Regions from separate parts of the Homo sapiens genome. Here region 1 is linked to region 2. Evidence: fine-mapped expression QTL. A gene starts in region 2. The other region holds a variant in brackets. All regions are shown on one strand. Distances are between the middles of the regions.

What was found.
Region 1: its variant is fine-mapped to the expression of ABI1 in whole blood (TOPMed, PIP 0.90).

What each region holds. Positions count from the first base shown.
Region 1 is chr10:26,803,559-26,807,958 of GRCh38, forward strand. All of the region lies in intron 2 of ABI1 (abl interactor 1), which reads right to left. Among named protein-coding and RNA genes, the nearest start is that of ABI1, 55 kb to the right of the region's middle. The variant G/GT (reference allele first, on the strand shown) is at 2,243.
Region 2 is chr10:26,858,456-26,862,855 of GRCh38, forward strand. ABI1 (abl interactor 1) reads right to left here and starts at 2,503. Exons shown (of 11, transcript NM_001012750.3): 1 at 2,292-2,503. The coding sequence starts at 2,408. RefSeq lists silencers at 1,876-2,025, 2,136-2,225 and an enhancer at 2,546-2,745.

The DNA of each region.
Region 1 (4,400 bases), 55 kb before region 2:
CCCAAATTTTGACTTTTTCAGGAAACAGGCAGGCAAAAATGTTTAGTGATCACATTAAGTCATCTGTTTAACATTCTGAACCAAATAATTGATAATTGAAATTTTACACTAGAGTGTATCCATTCTGCTTCAAAATGGAGAATCTTTCTAAAAATAAAATTGACATCGTGCCCTATTTGCAAAGAACTACAGATTTTCTAAAGTGACACACTGAAAATTTAAGAGACTTGAGGATCAACTCCTTGCCAGGCCCTATTGAAGATACTAGGGATACAGTGATATACAAAACAGATAAGGTTCCTGTCATCATTAAACTTAACCTCAAAAGAAAGAATAGCCATTAAATAAGTACGCATACAAATAAACATAATTACAAACCTGGTATGTAGTACAAAGGATGAAGTAAAAAAAAATTCTGCTATGTAGTACAAAGGATGAAATAAAAAAAAAAAATTCTATTATATTAAGAACAAATATAATTGATGACTCTGCAAAAGCAATGTCCAGGGAGTGGAAGGAAACAAAGTCAAATACAATAGATCGGCTGGGTGTGGTGGCTCATGTCTGTAATCCCAGCACTTTGGGAGGCTGAGGCAAGCAGATCACCTGGGGTCAGGACTTTGAGACCAGCTTGGCCAACATGGCAAAACCCTGTCTTTACTAAAACTACAAAAATTAGCCAGTCGTCGTGGTGCATGTCTGTAGTCCCAGCTACTTGGGAGGCTGAGGCACAAGAATCTCTTGAACCCGGGAGACAGAGGTTGCAGTGAGCTTAGATCGCACCACTGCACTCCAGCCTGGGTGACAGAGCAAGGCTCTATTTAAAAAAAAAAAAAAAAATCACAATGGATTGAGGCATACATATGTTTGAAGGAAGAAGCTGCCAGGAAACAGCAGATTCAAGAACTTGGTTGTAAACTGACAACAGAGAAAGGCAATATATCAAAAGGCATGGTTAGGAAAACTTAAGATGGGAAGACATACACATGTTAAATGTTTATTCGAAGTGGGAACACAAGAGAGATTGAATATAAGAGAAAAAAGGGATGACAGATATGATGACTAATAATGCCAACACTATGTAAAGGTAAATGCTTTATAAGCAATTCCTTATTTAATCTCCAAGGTTAGCACTATTGTCCAAATTCTGCATATGAGATAACTAAACTCAAAAAGGTAGGTAGGAAAAATCACACAGTGACAGAACATGGCTTCAAACACAGGTCTTTATGACTCCAAAATACACCACACTGTCTTATTCTTTCCATATCCTTATCAAACTATGTAAATGCCAGTTACTATGTAATAAAGATACAGAGATGAATAAAACATGGTCCTTATCTTTAAAGAGTAAGGTAAGGAACACAAACATATACCCAAAAATCAATGTAAAAGAAGGAATAAGTTAGAAGGTATAAAACAAAGAGAGGGCCAGTAACTCTATCCTGAGCTGATTAGTGAAGACCTCAGACGGTGTTCCTATTAGGCAGAACAGAAACAGGACAAACTGAATTCCAGGTAAGACAAACACATAATTGGAAAAACAAAGACGCACAAATTTACAGCTGTGTCTGCAACACTTCAAGAAGCTGGGCATGGCAGAAATAGGAGAGTTGAAGAGACCACATCAATGAGACTTTTATGCCATGCTATGGTATCTGAACTATAGGAAGTAAAAATCCATTTCCAGACTTTAAAGCAAGATTAGGCTACTGTGAAGACTCAGACTTCAGAGGTCTGAGCAGTAGCCTGGTGAGTGAACGGCTTACAGACAACCAAAAGAACATGAAATTTGGAAGGAGACTCCCAAACTAGCTGTTTATACTCAAGCTCAAGGACAGTTCCAAAGTCACTTTTTATTTAAAAAAAAAAAAAAAAGGTAGTTTTTATTCTAAGGTTAATGAGAACACTCCGTTGTCATATTTTAGGACACAACAAAGAAATGGTTTCACCCACACTTTGTGATCAACAGGGAGGGACTGAAGATTTGCTTCCTTAACCCCACAAATACAGATTATTTGAGGCAGAATGCAGGCTTAGGTGATTCATTTCTCCAAAAAGCATATTGAACAGAAGCAGGATTGCCAGCTGTTTACCCTAAAAGCAAAGAACAGAGTCTCCAATTTCCAAAAGATACTGCCTTTCCTTTGATTCAGGGCATATCACGTCAGTCTGCCATCTGATGGTTCAGGAAGACTGATGCTTATTTCTGCTAAGCATATTGCTCTGACTCAGGAGCTGT[G/GT]TAATTCCAGCACCCAGCAGATACAAGAAGCAGAGAAGAAGCCAAAGGATACCAGCTACTCCCCTAGCACAACACAATTAGCCTCAGCAATGAAACCAAATCAAAGGAAAATAAGCTATAATTTAGAACTTTAGGTTTTTGCAAATTGATCTCCAGGTACTTTCCTCATTGCAGAAATCATACCCTACATTCTAATCACCCTGAAAAAACCATGCATGTCTTTCTCTAATGCCATTACCTCAGACTGGAATGCATCTATACTCCGTATCAACATGATAAATGAACAGGCTTCCTTTAAGACCCAATTCAACTGTTATTCCTTCAAGCCATGCTGTAAAACCAGCTCATTCAATCTTCATTCTACCCTCCTGATCCTTGCCCCAAGAATATCTGCTTGCACTGCAGAAGCTAAAAAGCTAAAATCAACATTGTCCAGTTGTTCTCACCACCAGGCTTCTGGATACAATTTCTGATCTATCAATAAAATACTTTCATGGGATTTGGAAACTGAAAGTGAAGTGGAGATCTCTTATTACCACTTTACATTTCCTATTGGCAAAGTAAGTCAAGAAATAAGGTTTTTTTCCAAATTGATGCTCCAGTGTCCATTCTCCAACTGTTTGGATGTTTACAGGCAACCGCACTGGAAACAACAGCTGGACTCCAAGTTCAATGCCCAGTCACCAGGTTTGTGGGTGTCAAGAGGCAGTTGAGGCAGCAACAATGGCAGCAGCTTTCTAAGCCATGGCCTGAAACCCTTGCATAACGTTCTTAAACTCAGTAATTCCTGTGGCACCATCAGTGGTTATAGCTTCCCCAGCAGATCAGTTTTTGAGTTCTGGAACTTATTTGTGGAGAGTAAATTTATATTTAAGATAGTTAGAATGGTTTCTATCTCCTGGTCCTTGAATCATATACACCAAACAAGTTAACACCTTACAGGGGAAGCAGCACACCAAGAAGGAAAGAAAATGAGTAATATCAGTGCAAGAGGCTAACAAACTGGTAAGTGCCAGTTAGACCTTAGATACATGAGAAAAACAATGAATTAGACTAGAATCAGTATCCTAAAATTCCCTTTGACTACAAAAAGTTTTAAGTCCCTGAATCCACAAGTTGTCACACATAAGAAATCATCATTTGTCCAACATGCATGTAATTGCAAGTTTTATCTCAATTGATTATCTTTTTTTCTTGAATATTGGCCATGTTTTCATGGTTCTTCCTAAGTATGGTAATTTTAGATTACATTTTATATGTGGTAAATGATACCTTACAGAAACTCTAGATTCTGCTATAGTCCTTTAAAAAATGTTTTGATTTTCAAGGGCAGAAAAATTAAAAAGATAAAGAAGTAGAAAAGAAAAAACAAACAAAAAATGTTTACAGTAGGCCAGGCACAGTGGCTCACGCCTGTAATCCCAGCACTTTTGGAGGCAGAAGGTGGTGGATCGCTTGAGCCCGGGAATTCGACACAGGTCTGGGCAACATGGTGAAACCCCATCTCTACAAAAAATACGAAAAATTAGCCAGGTGTGGTGGTGCATGCCTGTAGTCCCAGCTACTTGGGAGGCTGAGGTGGGAGGAGGAGGCTTCACCTGAGCCTAGGAAGACAAGGCTGCAGTGAACCATAATCACACCACTGCATTCCAGCTTGGGCGACAAGAGTGAGACCCGGCCTCAAAAAAAAAAGTTGATACTAAACTTAGCTTGACTTAAATCGCAAACTTTCTCCTCCAAGATGGGCAGCAGCTGAAATCTTTGTTCAGTTCTTTTATCCTTGGCTGAGTTGCATGCAGTTCGCTCCACACACAGCTCAGCCTGTAATACAGGCAAAGTTTTAACACAAAATTTGGGGCTCTTTCCCTTCAGGTCTCTCTTTCCACTCACTTTCCAGCTGTTGTGGTCACCATGAACTCTGCCCTCTGGGTCACAAGCTATATGCAGTTTCCTAACTGAGTTTTAGCTGTCTAGCATGGTGCAAAACTAGCTACAAAAATAGCAAACCCAGCCGGGCATGGTGGCTCACGTTTGTAATCCCAGCACTTTGGGAGGCCAAGGTGGATGGATCACTTGAGGTCAGGAGTTGGAGGCCAGCCTGGCCAAAATGGTGAAACCCCGCCTCTATTAAAAATACAAAAATTAGCTGGGCGTGGTG
Region 2 (4,400 bases):
TTTTTTTTTTTTCCAATATGAACAAAACACCTCACTGGTGTCAGATTTAGGATTATACCCCACCCCGCCCCCACAAAAAAAGAAAAAAAAAAAAAAAAAAAAAAAAAACGGGGCCACTGACTGTGGCTATTCGTGCACCATGGCACTAACATTTTATAAAGTGAGAGACTGTATGAAAAATAACATGACTTAATTAGAGATATTAGCAATGAAGTTTTAAAGTGCTTCAAAGTTACATGATTGTAGCAAGAGGAGTAAAGGAAAGGGGTCAGAGAGGGGTAAAAAAAAAGCATTACAACATACAACTACCTGAAAAAGTAATAGTACACAGACAGGTTAAAACACGTTTACAGTTACTAACAGTTGCCAACACATAGTTACCACACTATATACTTGTCAGATTTCCCAACATGCAAAACAAAAAGGAGCCACCCCTGTATGAAGCACTTATCTACTGACTTCTACAGAGAACACATAACTTTTCTGGAAAGCGAGAAATTAAACTTACTGTGCTCTCCTTTTGGCTTTCAAAAATCTTTAAAACTTTCAGCAAATTAAGGTTCTCCTCAATTTCAAGGCTTTTCATGTTAAGTTGAATAAAAGTTGCCTATTTTTAATATCGATAAACTACGAGATCACTTTTATATTTGCAAACCATATCCACATCCCTACTAGATTTTTAAAAGTTTTTCGAAGGGCTAAATATAAAGTTTGCACAAAGTGATACAGTAGATGTGGCAGGCATTCAACAAGTTCACTTATCAGGAGAATTCCTAAAGTGAAAGCTTGAAAAAAAAATTGTGAAGATAAATTCCGAGTAGTGCTACTGAAGATACAATGTTACTAACATGAAAACTGAGAAATATTCAAAACATTCTGAAAACAGCATCTCCCTCTAAAAATAAAGAGGGGAAGCATTTGCCAACACAGAAACATCGGTTCTTAAAAATTATAATCACATGGGAGACATTTCTATAAACAATTTAGTTCTGAATTGCAATAACCCTAACCTTTCAAAGCACGTTTTGGCCTTGCCTTACCAAAAGCAAGAGCATTCCTGGTGCCTTTATATTTATACAAAGGACTGTGCTACTTTGTTTCTAGCGCAAACTGTTGGTTTACACAGTTAAAGATCTTCAAAACAAACTACCACACACAATTCACTTCCAATCATCCAAAGAGAAACGAACAAACAAGCATCTGTCACAAAGTCCCAAGAGTTTTCTAATTTACAATAACAGATATTTTTACGTTGTAGTTCAGAGGCTACCTCTGTTCGTTTCTGTATTTGGATTCACATACTATACATTTACTTAGCTTGTTAAGAGAGAAACCTCAGAAAATAAGCAACCGGCGATGACACCAGTCTATTTTAAGTTACTTATGAAGCCTACAGCTCAAGAACTTTTGGGAGAAGGGAGGGTAAGCCGTTTTTCCAAGGAGTTAAGAACAATTCGTGTTTGATAATTAATGATAGCAGCCCTAACAACCTCTTAGAATACATTATGGTGGGGCGGAAGTGAAAACGATGAGAGGGGGAAAAAAATAAAAAAAACCCGACTTGAAAATGGACAAGCAGACAGATTTACAAACCTTCAATTAAAGGAATTTTAAGATGAACTTCTCTCAAACGCCCTCCCTCACTCCCCACACCCGCTTCCTCCTCTCCTCCGGGAGGTCGGTGTAATGTGACTCATGACAAATTTTTTTTAAATAAATAAATAAATAAAAGACACACCCTCTGGGGGCTGAAACTGACATAATCGCCCCCACCCCACCCTCCGCCGACACACAACACACACCCCGCTGGTCCTCTCCCTTCTGCGGCTTCAGCCTCGTCCCTGCCCTCTCCTCTCCCCTCTCCCGTCCTGGACCTCCTCTCCCGGCGCAGAGAGGCGGCGCGGCGGCAGCTCGGGGGTATTCCGGGACTCCAGCCCTGCGGACTGGAGGCTACCTGGGGGGCGCGCGACCCCGGTGGCCGGGCCCTGGGGGAAGCGGACGCGAGGGGGGCGCCGGGCTGCGGCAGCGGCGGGCTCCCGGCTCCCTCGCCCATTTTCTCTCTCCCCTTCTATCGGTTTCCACCACCACAGCCACTTCCTGTATCGCAGCCCGACTCCCTCAGCCCGGCCACTCGCTCTGTCCCCGGTTGGGGCTGGGGTTGGGGCTGCGGTAGGGGCTCGGGTTGGTGGCAGCCGCTGAGGTCAGGGCAGTTCCCCACCCCGCCCAGTGGGCTGGTCACTCCGGCGGGTCCTCGACCCGGCCAGCGCCCGCCGGCCGCCAGAGCGCCTCACCTGTATGTAGTTGTTTTCACAGTAGTCTGCCACCCGAGTCAGGTTCTGGTAACTCTCGATCAGCGCCCTCTTGCCAGACGGGATCTCCTCCTCTAGTAACATCTGCAGCTCTGCCATTTTCCACCCCTCTGCATCGCTTCCTCTCGCGTTAAAGAGACAGAGGCAGCAAGGTCCGCCGAGGCTCCGAGCACCTCACAGCCCGGATACAAACCGCCTACCCGCCCTCCCGCCTGGTATTGTGGGACGGCACCTCCTCCCCTTCCTCCTCACTCTCTCCAGCCCCCCTCCACCCCCTTCGTGCAGCCGCCTGAACCTCGTTCTCTCGCGAGCGTTTATTTCTCCCACCCCCACGGACCGCGGGATTTTTTTTTTCTTTCGCACTGTCTTCTGGGAATTGTAGTCTCTCCTAGGCTAGGCGGCCCGTCCAAAGCGCATGCGCCCAGACACCTCCGAAAACCAACGCGGCAGAGCGCAGAAAGCGGAGACCGAGGGTGGAGGGAGGGGGCGGTGTTGGGGGGAAGTCCGGAGTTTCCTCACAGCTCCGGAAGGTGGCGCCACAGGGTGATACTGGGGGAATGAAATCGGTTCCCCAAGTTTCATGTGAAACTTGGCAGAACTTGGTTAATTAGGAAATGTCAGTGAATCAAGGACACCCATTCAGAGAAGGATTAAAAAGGGGACAGAGTACGGAAAACTAGATTTTTACTTCCTCTGCCTTCTTAGAAATAAAGCGAGTCAGGCTTTACTTTCTGAAGTTCCGCCCCCATCAATTCATTTAAAATTTAGCAAACATTTCTTGATTGCCAGCTGTTTACCAAGCAGCGTACTAGACACTGGGGGTACAAGTTGAGTACGAATACTCCGTACCCTTAAAGACTCAATTATAAAATAAACATACATAGCTTGTAGTGCTTTCCTGTCCTAATTTCTCTTTTCTCTGACTCTCCTTATCATGTAATCTTCCTACACTTTTAAGGTCATGTGCACGTTTTTTTAGGGGTGGGAGTTGTTTGCTTGTTTGAGACAGGATCTCACTGTTACCCAGCCTGGAGTACAGGGGCACAATCATGGGTCTCTGCAGCCTAGACCTCCTAAAGTCAAGCGATCCTCCTGCCTCAGCCTCCAGAGTAACTGGGACTACAAGCGTCGGTCACTACACCTGGCTGAGCTTTTTAATTTTTTATAGCGACAGGGATCAAATTATGTTGCCCTCGCTCGTCTCGAACCCCTGGCCTCAAGCAATCCTTCTGCCTCAACCTCCCAAACTGCTAGGATTACAATCATGAGCCACCCACCCTGATCCTTCGTTTTTTGCTCCTGGATTTTTGTTTTGTTTTGTTTTTATCACCTGCTTTGGAATAGTCTCAAAAGGCCCTATATTTCAAGCTCTTCACTTCAACAGGAACATTAAATGCTTCGGATATAATCAGCTATGAAAAGTGTTGTCCAAAGACTTTGGACATATGTTCATGTATCTCCATAAAGTCATTTAGAATCAAAATAACTAGGAGTAAAAACATCACTCAACCAAATTAAAAATTGCCAGCACCAGGTATTTATTGAATATTGCCTTTACTGGGGCCTTATTCAGGGCCCCAGGGAACCAGTTTCCCTCTTCGACCTCTGAAAGGAAAAACTCAGTTTCCTACTAAAAACGTTAACTTCCCCTTGCCACCAGATTCTCCATCAAGGAATCTATCAAAAGATAACTATTATACCTATTCCAGATATTATGGAAAGTAATACATTTATTATCTGGAATAGGTGTAATAGTTATCTTTTGATATTTATCGTTAACCCAAACACGACTTAATCCAAGTTATTAAAATTTAATGTATTATTGATCTTGGTCTCTACTTGAGGTTTAACTGTAGAAATCACTCAGTTTGTATATATTCAAATATTGACACATTTCAACAACATTGGGGAAGTGATTAGGGAGGTGATACTAATTTACTATTTTCAACGTACTGTCCATGCAGTTGAGCAATGAATGAATAATAATGATGATGATGATAAATACAAATAAAAAGTACTGTCAGATTTCTTCTCACAACTCTGAGAGACAGATAATATAAATATTATTTTCCTTCCTTATCAAATAAGGAA